Linked DNA regions of Homo sapiens: region 2 is linked to region 1. Evidence: fine-mapped expression QTL. Tissue or cell type: hypothalamus. Region 1 holds a variant in brackets; the other region holds the start of a gene. All regions are shown on one strand. Distances are from middle to middle.

What was found. PIP is the estimated chance that this variant, and not a neighbour inherited with it, causes the effect.
Region 2: it holds the start of DNPEP, and the variant in region 1 is fine-mapped to the expression of DNPEP in hypothalamus (GTEx, PIP 0.95).

What each region holds. Positions count from the first base shown.
Region 1 is chr2:219,668,056-219,676,158 of GRCh38, reverse strand. No RefSeq gene overlaps it. Among named protein-coding and RNA genes, the nearest start is that of SLC4A3, 44 kb to the right of the region's middle. RefSeq lists an enhancer at 3,074-3,574. The variant C/T (reference allele first, on the strand shown) is at 4,899.
Region 2 is chr2:219,384,005-219,392,107 of GRCh38, reverse strand. It overlaps DNPEP (aspartyl aminopeptidase), which reads left to right and starts at 4,196. Exons shown (of 15, transcript NM_012100.4): 1 at 4,196-4,349; 2 at 4,945-5,038; 3 at 5,128-5,216; 4 at 5,330-5,443; 5 at 5,697-5,822; 6 at 6,010-6,140; 7 at 6,402-6,477; 8 at 6,577-6,684; 9 at 7,665-7,742. The coding sequence starts at 4,314. DNPEP-AS1 (DNPEP antisense RNA 1) reads right to left here and starts at 3,538. Exons shown (of 4, transcript NR_183823.1): 1 at 3,312-3,538; 2 at 3,060-3,221. RefSeq lists silencers at 3,395-3,544, 3,625-4,144, 4,165-4,404 and an enhancer at 4,669-5,515.

The DNA.
Region 1 (8,103 bases):
CACGATGTCTGGGGCTTCCAAGGTGGCTTCTGCACTCACAGGTCTAGTGCCTGGGCTGGGATGGCCTAAGGACTAGCCAGAACACCTATACATGGCCTCTCCACGTGGATTCGGCTTTTCACAACATGGCAGTTGAGTTAGAGAGAAGGCTTTCTGAGAAGGGGTCTCTAGAAAGCAAACACTATCAGAGCACCAAGGGGAAGCCACATGGCCTTTTCAGTCTTAGCCCTTCCACCATACTCTATTGGCCAAAGCAGAATCAAGAGGAAAGGTCATAGACTCCATCCCAGATAGGAAAAGTGCCAAAGAATCTAGGAGCTATGTTTTACAACCACCACACTGGCCAAGTGAATTCCTTGCTTCCAAGCTTAGAGATAATATCTAGAGTCCCCAGGGGGCTAAACATGGACTGGTCTCTAACTTGGGTGGGAGAAGAGCAGGTGCTGGGGACTCCAGCAAACTCCTCACAGTTGATTCTCAAGAGTGTGTTTGCCCTGCCCCAAGAGAGATGCCCAGAGGAGGCTCAGCCCACAGGCAGCCCTTCACAAATGAAAAGAACCCTCTTGTCACTATTACCCACCACCCCACCTTAACTGCTATTCCTCCTGAACATCTTTTCCCCTCCAAATTACCCTCCAGCAAAAAACCTGCTCCCACAAAGCACGCTGTGCATGCCAGTGTGTCTCATTGTTCCTCTATTAAGACACATCATTCACAAACACTACGCTTCTTAAAAGATACCCTCAGCTGTCACTTACATAACAGAACTTGGCAAAAACAGATGGAGCATGCCAGCGGTGTCTTTGCCTGGGGCAGTATATGCTAATATCTTGGCACAGGCACCTTGAGCTGCTTTTTTTTCCCAGCAAAGTTCCATCAGCTGGAAAGTTCGAAGGGGAGAGCAAGATCATAGAAAAGTCAGTAGAGGAAGCTGTTCCTTTTTTACCTTTGGAAAATAAAACTACCTTTTCATCAATCAAATAGTGGGAAAAATCTGTAGAGCTACTCCCCAAAACTCAGGAGAAAGGAGGAAGCTTGATGCTACCTAAAGAAAGGTATGACACACAAAAAGAAGGGACATTCGACCCAGGATGTAGGAGAAAAGGGCATTTCGGAGAGAAGGAATGACAGGCACAAAGATGGGGAGGCAGGAATGTGCCTGACTTGTTCCCAGAGCATTGAAATAGCTGGTCTACCTAGAGTGGAGGGTTTGGGCTTGGGAGTTGTAGGGGCCATTTATTATTTCGCCTTCCCAGAACAACACCCCCGCTTCATTTGGGAAAGAGCTCTACTTCCATTTGGTTCTCTATAGCCCTGGCTGGGCTAATCCTAGAGACTGATCCCTTTGACATCAGTAATTGGCCCAGGGATAGGCAAACGACCAGGCCAATCTGAGCCCATTCCAGCCCAACTGGAGTGAGTGGGAAGAGCTCTTTTCTCTCTGCTCTCAAGAGGAGGGGCAGGAGAATGCACAGGGCTAAAAGCCCAAGCTCTTCAATCAGAGTTGACTCCAGATCCCAAAGTTCTTTACCAGCTTTGTGAACTTGGGAAGGGTCCTCACTGAGGCTCCATTTCTTCATCTGTAAAATGGGGATAACAAGACCCACCTCATAGGTTCATGTCATGGATTAAATGAGATAAGCAATTCAGGTGCTTAGAATTAAGATGGCAGCCCCAGAGCTGCCCACACCGTGGTACCAACTTTAGGGTACTGGCCAGCCTGAGAGTTAAGTCAGTCCTCAAAGGAAGCAGGGATGAGAGTAAGTTAAGCAACAACCCAGGCTTCCTGCAGCTTGGTGATAGGAGTCAATGAATTTGCCTTTTCCAAATGTAAGCTGGCTTGAGTTTGATTTCTGTTCATGGCACCTAATAGTGCTTGAGTTGTATTTTTTAATGCAAAAATATACTTAGAAATACATCCACAGTGTATTTCTCTAATTATAAAATCCATCCATTGAAATAATCCTAGAGTTTTGTAACCATTCCTTTCTTGGTTTTCCTTTCCCTAAAATCAACTTGCTAAGCTCCCAAGACTACAAGTCAAGCTGGAGGAAGCACCAGGAAGGAGGAGGGACGATGGGACAGGGATATGAGTTGTGGACGTGGAGGAGAGGATTAAACAGTCCACCAGCCTTGTGGACCCCCAATTCTAAGGATCCTCTGAGCCCCTGACCTTCACTCCCCAGAACCAGTGAGAGCCCAGGTCAGAACTCAGGTTCAATATCCCAAATCATAAACAAAATCAGAGAAGCAGAATTCTCAGAAGAAACCAAATGGAAAACCCAAGAAGACAGGAAATGTCCATGTTCAGCACTGAAACTCACCATTGCCATGGGAGAATAAAAGTCATAAACATAACAGAGAAGATAATATTATAATTATTTGCAACTAGTTTTGACTCTACACCTGGAAAACCAAAGAGAATAGAGTTAAAACAAAAACAAAAACAAAACTGTTAAAATCAATAGGATAATTCGATAAGATGGCTAGCTATAAAAATGTATGTATGAGAGTCAATAGCTTGCTACATACACACAACTGATTGGAAAATAAAATGAAAGAAAAAAATCCCATTTAAAAAGCCGCAATCAGCTGGGAGCTGTGGCTCACACCTGTAATCCCAGCACTTTGGGAGGCTGAGGTGGGCGGATCACCTGAGGTCAGGAGTTCAAGACCAGCCTGGCCAACATGACAAAACCCTGTCTCTACTAAAAATACAAAAATTAGCTGGGCGTGGTGGCAGACACCTGTAATCCCAGCTACTCGAAAAGCTGAGGCACGAGAATCGCTTGAACACAGGAGGTGGAGGATGCAGTGAGCAAAGATCGCACCACTGCACTCCAGCCTGGGCAACAAAGCAAGACACTGTCTCAAAAAAAAAAGGTAGCAATTCAAAAAAGTAAAAACAAACAAAAAGGCTACATACAGATACACCTAATAAGAAATGTACGGAATCTACATGAAGAAAAAATGTTTAATTTTTTTTTTTCTCCTAGACAGGGTCTTACTTTATTGCCCAGGCTGGAATGCAGAGGCATGATCTCAGCTCACTGCAGCCTTTACTACCCAGGCTCAAGTGATCCTCCCACCTCAGCCTCCTGCATAGCTAGGACTATACTATATGTGCATGCCACCATGCCCAGGTAATTTTTGTATTTTTTGGTTTTGCCATGTTGCCCAGGCTGGTCTCGAACTCCTGGGCTCAAGCAATTCACCCACCTCTGCCTCCCAAAGTGCTGGGATTACAGGTGTGTGCCACCACACCCAGCAGAAACATTTTTAAATTCTAATGAGGACCTTATATAAATTTTTAAAGACCAGCAAATGATAAGGCAGAATGGGAGAATAGACATACAGTACTGGAGAATAGAGATCAGAGGAATCAGATAAAAGAGAAGCATGGAAGAGAGGCAGAAAGACAAAACCTGTCATTTTTCTTGGGCCAGTGAGAGTGGGGGGGCTTCAGGTGCTTTCCCAGAGGACCCATGGTCTGGGCGCTAGTGGGGAGGAACTGACCTGCATGGCCACCATGAATCCCTTAGGCACCCCTCCTCCCCTGGGGTCATGTTGCACTCCAGGCCGCCAAAATTTAGGGGCAGACTGGAGACTGAGTAAGCCAGCCAAGGTGGCCACTGGGCGGCAGAGACATTGCTGTTGGCAAAAGCAGCACTCCATCCCAGCTGATGAAAATCAGAACCCCCATCTCAGATCCCAATTTACAGAGCATTTGCACTTTCATGAGCCTATATCTTGCTCACAACTTCCCTGAGAGAGAAGAAATCCAGGGCAAATATCCCTGTGCCTAGCTTCCTGAAGATCAACTTGGATTTTGTATTAGTCCATTCCCACACTGCTATAAAAAACTACCTGAAACTGGGTAATTTATAAAGAAAAGAGGTTTAATTGACTCACAGTTCCGCCTGGCTAGGGAGGCCCCAGAAAACTTACAATCATGGAGGAAGGCAAAGGGGAAGCAGGCACCTTTTTCACAAGGCGGCAGGAGAGACAGAGCAAGCGGGGAAGTGCCACACTTTTAAACCATCAAATCTCATAAGAACTTACTCACTATCACGAGAACAGCATGGGGAAAATCTGCCCCCATGATCCAATCACCTCCCTGATCAAGTACCTCCCCCTGACAAGTGGGGATTACAATTCGAGATGAGATTTGGGTGCGGACACAGCAAAACCACATCAGATACCCGGGTCACATGTGGGTCCTTGGGTGGCAGACCTTTTCAAAGGAATAATTTTAAGGTTTTCAAGTGTATACATCCTGCTTGAATATCAAATTGGTTTTTTAAAAATTGTATTTCAGTAGCATTAGGGGTACAAGTGGTTTTGGATTACATGGGTGAATCATATTCAAGTTGTTTTAAATGAGAGCAGGACAAGAATTAGAATCTTGCAATCCATGGCAGTTCTTTCTCCACAACACTCAGTAGATACCTTGATATATGCATACTCGTTTGTTTGATATGAAACATATGAGGGGAAGATAGGAGAGGAATCTCTCATTCTGATTCAGTTGCCTGAAAATCCTTGCCTTAGCTCATTCCTTTGAGCCGAAGGTATTGAAGCCCTCCTTTAAAATGCAAATATCATCTAGGAAGAGTGACACATAAATCATTGTCTTTCATTAGTCCCACAGACCAGAGCACTTTATCAATCACTAATTTTTCTCCATGCTACTCAAGAGAACGCTAACGTGGAACGTGTCTAGACTCACTGAGTGGGGTGGGGTTGCAGCTGGCAGGACACCTGTGTTCTGGCCTCTGTGTTTTCACTCTCGAAACAAGGAGGGATGGATTTGATGATCTTTGAAATCCTGAGGCTCAATGCCCCCCACTATAGCCTGAATGTGTCCTTGCAAAATTCATAGGTTGAAAGCTAATCAA[C/T]GATGTGATGTGTTAAGACATGGGGCCTGTTTAGGGGGTGATTAAGCTCTCATGGGTGGGATTAGTGGCCTTATAAAAGAGGTATAAGGAAGCTGTTCACCCCTTCTGTTGATCTCAGATCTCTCAACCTCCGGAACTGTGAAAAATAAATTTCTGTTGTTTATAGATTACGCATCCCAAAGAATCTTGTCATAGCAACCCAAGTGGATGAAGAGACCCCCACATCCATCGGAGGGTGAACTCTAACTCATACATGTGTCTTGGGGATGCCGGCACAATAAAGTCTCGCCTCGTCCCATCTCTGTTTGGCATTTGAATCCAAATCTCTTTGTTCTGTTAGGCAACTGTTTGGGGCTTTTTATTCATTTGACAGGTGGATCTTTTTGAAGTTCTCATTTAAAATAATTTGATATTCAAGCTGTATGTGTGTGGTTGAAAGTCATAAAATTATTCATCTGAAAGACCTCTCCTTTTCTCTCAGATACCAACTGAAGTTTGCAGCAGTTCCCCCGAGCAAAGCTCGCTGCCTAGAAAGCTCTTTTTCAGCAACGCTCTGCCATCATCACTAAATTGAGTTATTCCAACAGCCTTTGATGCTCTGTTTTTTTTCCTAAGTGTGCATATGAAAGCTGAACAGCAACATAATTTAATTCTTCAAGATTTACTTTTTAATCACCAGGGTGATTCTTGTGGGGTACAGAGAGTTGACCCCGTTTTCTCAAGTTGAAATTGATTTAGGTCAAACAATTCTTGGAATTTGAATTAGATATTTTTCTCCTTATCGGCATGAACTTCAAGCTTCATTTTCCAACAGCTGGAAACATCTGTGCTACCCATGAATTACAGACGATTTGAGAAAACTAAATGTGGGCAAAGAAGATATTCACAACTCACAGAATTCTATCGGCAGAATTCTTCATAATGAGCTGAATTGGTGTTGAAGTACAATTGTGTTAGGTGTCTGAGTTCCTTTTATGAAAGAAAAATGAGACAATTACCAAGGACTAAGAATGCAATCAAAATAATACAACCATTTTACTGTTGAATAAGAAATCTTTCTATAAACACTATGGCATATTATTCCAGAATAAAAATATTTACCAGGAGGGGATTCTACTGAGAATTGTACCATGGAAAGTTAAGAGGCTTCTTCCCCCTAACTCAAATGTGCACCCACAGCATTATTGTCTGATTATGTAGTCAATGAACAAGGAACAAATATGTCTATCTAGAATAAAGCACCCTGTTTACATCAAGGTATTTCTTCACACAGGGATTGAATTTGAATACATAAATATTTCCATATGATTTGTTAATTACCTTTAGTAATAAATGTACTTAGATCCTCCCAATGCAAAAAGAATCTCTGAACAGTCAACTGATTAAAGAAAAAAAGCAGGGGATAGATTAGCTTGGAAATCAAAGAGGTAAGACAAAGCATCTTGGGTGAGCAACCGATAACTCCACTCCTCAGCTGCTTGCAGACTCATACCTTCATTTATTTGACCATCTGGGCACTCAATGAATTAAAGTCCACAGCTGTCCAGCCCTCCTCTCATACTCCCAGTTTAGGATGTTTTGGGAAGACAGGGAAGGGCTAGGGGTGGATCCCCAGGCCTGAGGCCCGTGAGGATGTCAATTTCAGGGAAGTTCTAGGGATTCCCGCTAGACTAGGGTTTCATGAGAGCTTTGATCTCCCCACTAAGCCAACAAAAAACATCTGCAGCAGGACAGAGAAGACTGAGACACCCTTATATCAATTCAGTAAATACTTCCTGAGCACTGATTATGCTTAACTCTATGGGGACTCCAGATCAAGGATTCAGGCATGAGGTGACACAAGTCGAGTTCCAACACATATCAGGCACTTGATATTTACTGAATGAAGGGTTGGTTGAAGAAGAGGGCAGTGTGAATGGAGAACAGAAAATATTTAGTAATATTAGTAATCGCACAGAAAATATTTGAGGACTTGATAACTGTCTGGGTGGAGAAAAGAAAGAGAAGGGAAATTGAACTGTGGCCCCAAAGGTTTCTCACCCAGGGACCAATGTAACAGGAATACCAAAGGTGCAAATAGGGACATTGGAGGAAAGAAGGACATTCTGGTGGAGACCGCAGCCTACCTGTCCTCAGAGAGGACTTGTTCAGAGCTGGCACAAACCGCTCCAGGATGGTTTCCCTTGGAGAGCTGAAATTGGAGGTCCAAGATACCGAACTGTAGAAACAGATTCTCCAGTTGGGGGTCTCATTAAAGGCCTATATTTCAACCACCAATATGATCCATTAATTTCTGGCTTATGCTACCCAAATCTTCCTTACATGGGCCCCAAACCTGTTTCTCTGTAATTACTCAGATTAAAATTTTCAGAATTTAACATTTCCATCTTTTTCAATTTATTTGCCCATGGTGCTTAAAAACACATTCTCCGGTCTTTATGCTCTCATCTAATTTCACCCGGTCTCCTCCCTCCATAGAAATAGCTACTGACATTCGCTTTGCCTTCCTGAGACTTGGCAGACCTGCTTTCTTTCTCATTCAGGAGGCATGAAGGTATCTGATGCCTGGGAAGGGAAGCCAGTCGTGGGTTCAGGCTTAACCAAACTGCATCCGTTGCGTACAACTGGTGTAAATGATCTAAATTGCTCTGATGTTGTGTGACTCCCCAGATGCCATGCACTGATTAAGAGTCTGCCTGTTTCTTCTGGGAACCCCCATCCCAGAGTCAGAGGGTTGCAGTATCACGGGGCAGGGATCGTACGGCCATGGGATGGGGCAGTCACTCAACTGACCCAGTGACTCGTCTCTGTGGCCGTGCACAGATGGAAGAGCAAAAGGAAGCCGGGCGGAAGCCAGAGGACGCTTCCTGCTGAAGCTTCTTCCTGAATATAAAAATGCCCAGAGGTATCCTCATTCGAAAAATGCTTTGCCGGGCGCGGAAGCTCACGCCTGTAACCCCAGTGCTTTGGAAGGCCGAGGCGGGTGGATCACAAGGTCAGGAGATCGAGACCATCCTGGCTAACACGGTGAAACCCCATCTCTACTAAAAATACAAAAAATTAGCTGGGCGTGGTGGCGGGCGCCTGTAGTCCCAGCTACTTAGGATGCTGAGGCAGGAGAATAGCTTGAACCTGGGAGGCGCAGGTTGCAGTGAGCCGAGATTGCGACACTGCACTCCAGCCCAGGCAACAGAGCAAGACTCCG
Region 2 (8,103 bases), 280 kb after region 1:
CCAAATCCATCACCATTCCCTTACCCAGAGGTGACCATTATCCTTCCAAACCTGTTTCTATCCATTTACATATGTATTTATATAACATCTAGAAATATAAATTTAGCTCATTGTGTGAGTTTTATCTAAAGGCCCTCACCTTACATTCTAGAAATTGCTTTTTTTTTTCACTCAACAGTATATTTGGAATTCTTTTCTGTAACAATTCCTAAAGACTGACCTTTTTTTTTTTTTTATGAACTGCTACACAGCACTTTAAAATACTGTGTCTCAAGCATTCAAATCATCTAGGAATCTTGTTAACATGCAGATGCTGATTCTATAACTCTAGGGTAAGCCCTGAGGTTCTGCATTTCTAAAAAGCTCCCAGATGTTATTGACATTGCTGGTCAACAGATCACACATTTAGTAGCAAAGATGTACAGTACGGGTGGAATAGTGTGCTGGGGCCAACTTGGACAAGCTCATGAGAACTGATTGTCAAATTTCCAGGAATTTGGTGAGCTTGTTGTTAAACACAGCAATCATTAAAAAAAACTAAATTATATACACTTACAATTAAATAAATTATATTACAGATAATGAAAACCAAAAATCCATCACCTTTCCAAACATTTTACTGCCTTCTTAAATCTATGCTGTTGATGTTATTTCTATCCATTGTGTCTGCATGGTGGAAATCTACATAATGGCATGCTTCCGCACAGCTCTTCCCAACTCCCTTCAGTGACATCATCTCGACAGCTTGAAATCGGCCACGGGGAACATTTACACCACAGAAATTTGGGTATAAAGGTCTGTGCAAACATACCCCCAAAGTTCAGGGAAGCTGAAAAGCCGACGAAAGAGGCTGACATATACAGTCTCTCAGAAAGAAACATTTCATAGGGACTTATGAATAGAGGCCATAGTTTCAGAGATGAAATGGTGGATTACCCTGCAAACCCAGGGCTTACATACCATAGGGAAACAATGTGTCAAACAATTGAAGTTGACCCCTCAGGCAAAGTCATGAATGCTATGTGAATCTGTCTAAGCGCAGGATTTATGGTAATAGTAGGTAAAGTAGAAAACTTAGAGTCATTCCTGGAACAGGTTGTTGAAAAGTCAACATGGCAGATTAGCTTCCCAGATGGAGTTGCTTTAGCCTCCAGAAAATGCTTGCATTACCCCAAGCCTTCTCCAACACTTGATATTACCCATCTTTTCCATTTTTGTTAATCTGCTCAATAAAAAGAAAAAGTATCTCATTTTTATTATTTATTAATTTTTTTTTTGAGTTGGAGTCTCGCACTTGTTGCCTGGGCTGGAGTGCAATGGCACGATCTCGGCTCACTGCAACCTCTGCCTCCCGGGTTCAAGCAGTTCTCCTGCCTCAGTCTCCTGAGTAGCTGGGATTACAAGTGCACACCACCATGTCCAGCTAATTTTTTGTATTTTTAGCCAGGCTAGTCTCAAACTCCTGACCTCGTGATCCACCCGCCTTTGCCTCCCAAAGTGCTGGGATTACAGGCATGAGCCACCACGCCCAACTGTTATCTCATTTTTAACTTGCATTTTCCTGTTTAAAGTGAGATTAGGTGTCTCATATGTTCATGACTAGAAATTTAACAATATTTCTTGCTCTTGTAAATATAGCCCTTTTACTTTTTTCTTTTTTACCCAAACCAAAAATGGTCAATAAGAACCTTTTTACTTTTATATTTTCTAGGTGATTATTGTACAAGAAAGTCAGTGTTTTTTAAATTAGGCTACCCTTCCTACCAGTTCTAATAATAGCTTGATCGTTTATTTTCTTGGGGATTCTAGATAATCATATAATCTATAAATAATGACCAATTTTACTTTTGCACATATAGAATTGTTAATTTTGTTTTGTGGTACTGGCTCTGACTACAGCTCCACATTGTCTAGCAGCAGTAATAGCTCATCAATGTCTCACTTCTGATTTGAATAGGAACACTTCTGTATTTCCCTCCCAAAATGCTGGGATGACAGGCGTGAGCCACCACTCCCGGCTCACTTTCTAAGTTATGCATTTTGGTGATGTTTGAATCTCTTACTCAAGCATGTACTCTTTTCTGTGATCAGAAAGAACATTAAAGGTGGTTCCTTATTCAGGTTGTCTCCTTCCCTTATACATTGTAGCCTTGTTTCGGCCCTTTCACTGTCCTCCTTGAATGTGTCCCCTCCCCAGGAGGTAGAGGACAAGAATGCTCTCTCCATGTCCTGCTCAGCATTGAGCTTTATACATAATTTTATTTATTTATTTATTGAGACAGAATCTCACTCTGTCGCCCAGGCTGGAGTGCAGTGGCACGATCTCAGCTCACTGCAACCTCCACCTCCCGGGTTCAAGCGATTCTCTTGCCTCAGCCTCCCAAGTAGCTGCTGGGATTACAGGCACGTGCCACTACACCCGGCTAATTTTTGTATTTTTTGTAGAGACGGGGTTTCACCATGTTGGTCAGACTGGTCACGAACTCCTGACCTCAAGTGATCTACCCGCCTCGGCCTCCCAAAGTGCTGGGATTACAGGCGTGAGCCACTGCGCCAGGCCCATAATGGTATTTCAACAAACGGTTAGGGAATGCCATGAATTTAAGCCAGCACCTAGTGGGTGAATTCTTGAAAACTCCCCTGCCATATCTACTAGTTTGAAGTGAGGGCTGCAGGACCTTTCCAGCCTCTCCCCATCCCACCCTGTCACTCCCCACCCCAGGTATATAAACGGCAGGTTGCTCCATAAACCTGTGATCTCTGGAATTTTGTTTGAACCCCTGGTAGCTGGGCCCTGTTTTGGATCTAGAGGCCACCAAGAGTCCTGATCAGTTCCTGCAGCTAGGAAGGTGCATGGGGTTTAAACGTGCTACTCACTACTCCTGACATGGGAATACTGGAACTGCCAATAATGTGGAATTTGTTTTTCTGTTGTTTTTAACAAATGGAAAGGGCACAGATATCAGAGTCAAATCCCAGATCCACCCAAACAGCTATGTGATCTTGGGCAAGTCAACTTCTGTGTCCCTTGTGGACCTCCCGTGTAACATAACACTTACCAAAGCGCATAGAAAAAGGTCCAGAAAAGATCTGAGAGAAGGCTGTAGGGTTGTTCCAGGCCTCTGCAATCAAACTGATGGAGTTCAAACCCCACCTGTGCCGTTTATTACCTCGACGGATCACTAGTCTCCGTATCTCAGCTTTCTCTGTTCATGCATAAACTGGGGACAGTAAGAGTACATAGTTGATGGGGCAGTTGTGAAGATTAAACGAGGTAACAGGCCAATCTTTATCATAAAGCTAAAGCTCACCGTGAGCGCCCCATGGACATTAGCCTTATTGCTTTTATTGTCACAAAGGTGGCTGTGGCGAGAGACAGCACTTTGTACCGTACCCGTCGGACCCGGTGAGCTGGAGGGGCGAGCTTTTTATTGGCCTCGAGGCCCGGGGCACGGGGAGGCGGGCCGTCCGCGGCTGTCCTAGCACCTCCGCGGCAGCAGAGGGCCCTGGCGGCGGCTGCGGGTCGCGCGGCGTGGGTGACGGGGGTGCAGGGCGGGGCCTAACGAGCAGCCCCCGCAGGGGCGGAGACGAGGGCGGGCCGGAGGCGGAGGCGCGGCCTGGAGAGGGATGGGGCGGAAGCGGGGCGGGCGGTGCAGCCTAGCGAGGGGCGGGGCGGACGAGGAAGCGTGACGAGCGGCGGGGCGGGTGGAGCAGCCTGGCGAGGAGCGGGGCGGGGTGGGCGGCACGGCCTGACAAGGGGCGGGGAGCGCAAGGAGGCCTGACGAAGGGCGGGGCGGAGCAAGGGCGGGGGCAGGGCGAGTAGTGGGGTACAGCGAGGGCCGGAGCGGATGGGGGAAACCTGGTGAGGGGCGGGACAAAGCGGGGAGGGCGGTGCAGCCTGGCGAGAGGCGGGGCGGACGAGGAAGCTTGACGAGGGGCGGGGCGGGCGGTGCAGCCCTGCGAGGGGCAGGGCGGGCGGTGCTTCCTGGCGAGGGGCGGGGCGGGGCGGGCGGTGCGGCCAAGCTAGGGGCGGGGCAAGGGCGGGGCAAGGCGGGTGGTGGTGCCCAGCGAGGGGCGGAGCGGACAGGGTAAGCCCGCCGAGGGGCGGGGCTGACCGAGGTGGGCGGGGCGGATGCCGAGGGGCGGGGAGAGGTGGGCGGGGAGGCCAAACATGGGGCGGGGCGGCGCGGCCGGGGAAGCGTGATGAAGGCCTACGAGTGCGGCGCGGCCTGAAGGGGCACGCGGGGGACCTGCAAAGCTAGTGAGGGGCGGGGCAGGCGGCGCGGTGGGGGCGGGCCGAGCCCGGAGGCCAGATGAGCGGACACAGCCCCACGCGCGGGGCCATGCAGGTAAGTGGCTCCCGACGGCCCCACTTGAATTTCGATCCCAGACCGGGTCCGGCGCCCTCCGGGGCCCAAGCTTAGCGCGGTGCTGCAGTGGGGCCGCCTGACCCAAAGCGAAACCGAAAGCCCCGCGGAGGGTGACCTGACGACTTTCCCGGGACTGGAAGGGGGAGTCCTGCGAGAGACTAGGTGGGTGCGAGAGAGGAGTCAGGGTGCTCCTTGGGGTACAGGGCTTTGGCTCCGGGCTGGGTACGCGCACGTGATGCAGGCCGCCTCAGAGTATGGGGCCCGCTTGGGATCCCGGAGTTTGGGAGCAGAACAGGATTTCCTAGCTGGGCAGGGACATGGGGGCGGGACTTAGGGAGTCGGGCTAAAGTTCGGATTAAGGGGCGGGCCTGGCTCATGATCCTGGGCCGGCGGGCTGAAGCTTTCAACGGAGTTTCAGCCCTGGGTTTGGGTCTCTCGGTGGGGACGGGCGGAAGCAGAGGTCTGTGCCTTAGAGTGGTCACTTCTGGGGGTGGGGATGGGAGAATCCTCGGAACCTGGGTGAAAGGTCAGGGGTCCCAGACCTTGTAAAAGTCTGAGCATCCCCCTCCCCTAGGTGGCCATGAACGGTAAGGCCCGCAAAGAGGCGGTGCAGACTGCGGCTAAGGAACTCCTCAAGTTCGTGAACCGGAGTCCCTCTCCTTTCCATGGTAAGCGGTGGCCAGGGCAAGGGAGGAGGGTGGAGGCTGATGCGCCCTTCACCAGCTTCCATCGCTGTGAGAGGGTGCTTTTCCCACAGCTGTGGCTGAATGCCGCAACCGCCTTCTCCAGGCTGGCTTCAGTGAACTCAAGGAGACTGAGAAATGGAATATTAAGCCCGAGAGCAAGGTACTGGGGGTGGGGTGGGGGTGGAAAGGCAGGTCCCTAGGCTGGTCTCCAAGCCCTGTGTGCCAGCTGAGTAATGCAACTCACACCCCTGTCTTTCCTCCCCTTCTCCTCAGTACTTCATGACCAGGAACTCCTCCACCATCATAGCTTTTGCTGTAGGGGGCCAGTACGTTCCTGGCAATGGCTTCAGCCTCATCGGGGCCCACACGGACAGCCCCTGCCTCCGGGTAAGGAACTCGGACGGTGTTGGGGTGGGAGGAGATGTCAGAGGGAGTACAGGGCAAAAGAGAACTAGGAGGTACAAACTGGGGCCTCTATCCCCTGGAGTAAGGGAGAAGGTAAACTTGTTGGCCCCTTCCTTCACACCTTGAGCCTTTCATGTGACACTAATATTCGCTGTCTGTTACTTATGAGTAGCCAAAGTCTCATCTCCACATATCGTCATGAAGCCTTCTCTGACTTCTCCATCTTTACACTCAGGTGAAACGTCGGTCTCGCCGCAGCCAGGTGGGCTTCCAGCAAGTCGGTGTGGAGACCTATGGTGGTGGGATCTGGAGCACCTGGTTTGACCGTGACCTGACTCTGGCTGGACGCGTCATTGTCAAGGTGGGAACCGAGGTTGGGGATGGCGGAGCCTCCTCAGAAGACTGACTGCCACACTCCTCAGGGTACCCGTGGGGAAGAGGGGTGGGGGCAGTCTGGTCAGAGGACCACCCTGCTTAGTCTGAGTGAAGTAAAGACTGACCACTGGGGTAGGAGGCACCCTGGGCTGACCTGGCCTGGCTGGCTGCAGTGCCCTACCTCAGGTCGGCTGGAGCAGCAGCTGGTGCACGTGGAGCGGCCCATTCTTCGCATCCCACACCTGGCCATCCATCTGCAGCGAAATATCAACGAGAACTTTGGGCCCAACACAGAGATGCATCTGTGAGACTGGGGCAGGGCTGCGGTGGCTGGGAGGGATGGAGAATGGTACCAGGTGATTATTACCTAATGGTAGCCATTAGGTCACATTTTACTCTTGGGACCCAGTTAATTTCTAAGGGTCCTCACAGCCTTGTGATTTGGGGAGTGGGCTGGGAATTGAAGGGCAGAGGCAGTTGCCCATCAGGAGGCACCTGAACTTATGGATGCCGCACTCAGCTGTGCCCTCCTCGCAATCCCCCCACAACCCACGTCTCCCCACAGAGTCCCCATTCTTGCCACAGCCATCCAGGAGGAGCTGGAGAAGGGGACTCCTGAGCCAGGGCCTCTCAATGCTGTGGTAAGAGAGTCTCCTGATCATGGGGAGGGCGGCAGAGTCCCCTGAGAAGTGGGGAGGAGAGGAGGAATGGACTCTTCCCAGCATCTTTCTGCTCTTCAGGATGAGCGGCACCATTCGGTCCTCATGTCCCTGCTCTGTGCCCATCTGGGGCTGAGCCCCAAGGACATAGTGGAGATGGAGCTCTGCCTTGCAGACACCCAGCCTGCGGTGAGGACTGGCTGTAGGAACCTGTGGGTGAAGGGCCTCCAGGATCCTGGCCACCCCTAGCCCGTCCTGCTGAAGCACCCATCACCTCCACCAAGCCCTCAGTAACTCTCATCCCCGTTTTTCCCAGTAGACACATCCCCCACTGCTTCTAGGGCGGTGGTTCTCAAAAAGACAAGTTCCCTACCCCAGACCTGCCCACTAGGACTATCTGGGAATTGGCCCTTTTTACAGATTCCCAAAGAGTTTCTTCTACAGGTGGGCCCTGTCTGCTTTGACCCACACTGACACTGAACTGCTTAGGGAAAGAGGCCTGGATGTGGCCATCTGTTCTCTGTCTCCCGGTTGCTGATGGTCAGAGATTGCTAAATCTTTGGATGCTGTGTCCTGCTTGAACACGTACTAAGTTTCTGTTTTTTGGCTGGTTTCCTCTGTTTACTTCTTTGGCCTTTTTGATGACAATTCAGCCCTTCCTTTTCTTGACCCACAGGAAGAGGTCAAGAGCTATTGGCCTCCACCCTTTTGTTCCTCAGCACCAACCCAGCCCCCTTCTCCAATCTCTGCTTGGTCCTGCCTAGCAAGGAATCCCAGCACTTTGGGAGGCTGAGGCGGGGGGAATCACATGAGGTCAGGAGTTCGAGACTAGCCTGACCACCATGGTGAAACCCTGTCTCTAATAAAAATACAAAAATTAGCTGGGCCTGGTGGTGCATGCCTGTAATCCCAGCTACTCAGGAGGCTGAGGCACGAGAATCCTTTGAACCCGGGAGGCGGAAGTTGCAGTGAGCCGAGATCGAGCCATTGCACTTCAGACTGGGCGACAAGAGCGAACCTTCATCTCAAAAAAAAGAAAAAACAAAATAGTGCCCTAAGCCAGGGGTCAGGGAGAGGTTGCGCAAGAAACCAAGGAGACCCTTGGGAGCAAAAGAAAGGTGAGTGGGGGTGGAGGGTTGAAGGTCGGGCTGACTGTCTTACCTCTCTAGGTCTTGGGTGGTGCCTATGATGAGTTCATCTTTGCTCCTCGGCTGGACAATCTGCACAGCTGCTTCTGTGCCCTGCAGGTGAGGAGCCGGGGCGCCCCAGGCAGCACATAACCACCAGCAGAGGTGGTATGTTTGGGGTCGGGGGAGCTGCCTAAAGCCCCAGCAGGTTGTGAGAGAGGGCCATTGTCTACCCGCTCAGTCTGCTGGTGCTGGATGGACCAGGAGGGGGCCCTAAATGTTGCAGCCTCAGCATCGCCACCTTTGGTCTCTGCCCTTGCACTATCAGGGTGTTGAGGCAAGAAGAAGGAGGAGAAGTTGTTTCAGGCACCATGGTCTCTTGTCCTAGCCTTGCTCCTGCTGCTTTTCCTGAAGTTAACAACCTCTGCCTCAGGGAAAGGCTTTATCATCCACAAGGCAGTATCATCCACCTCCTTCTGCT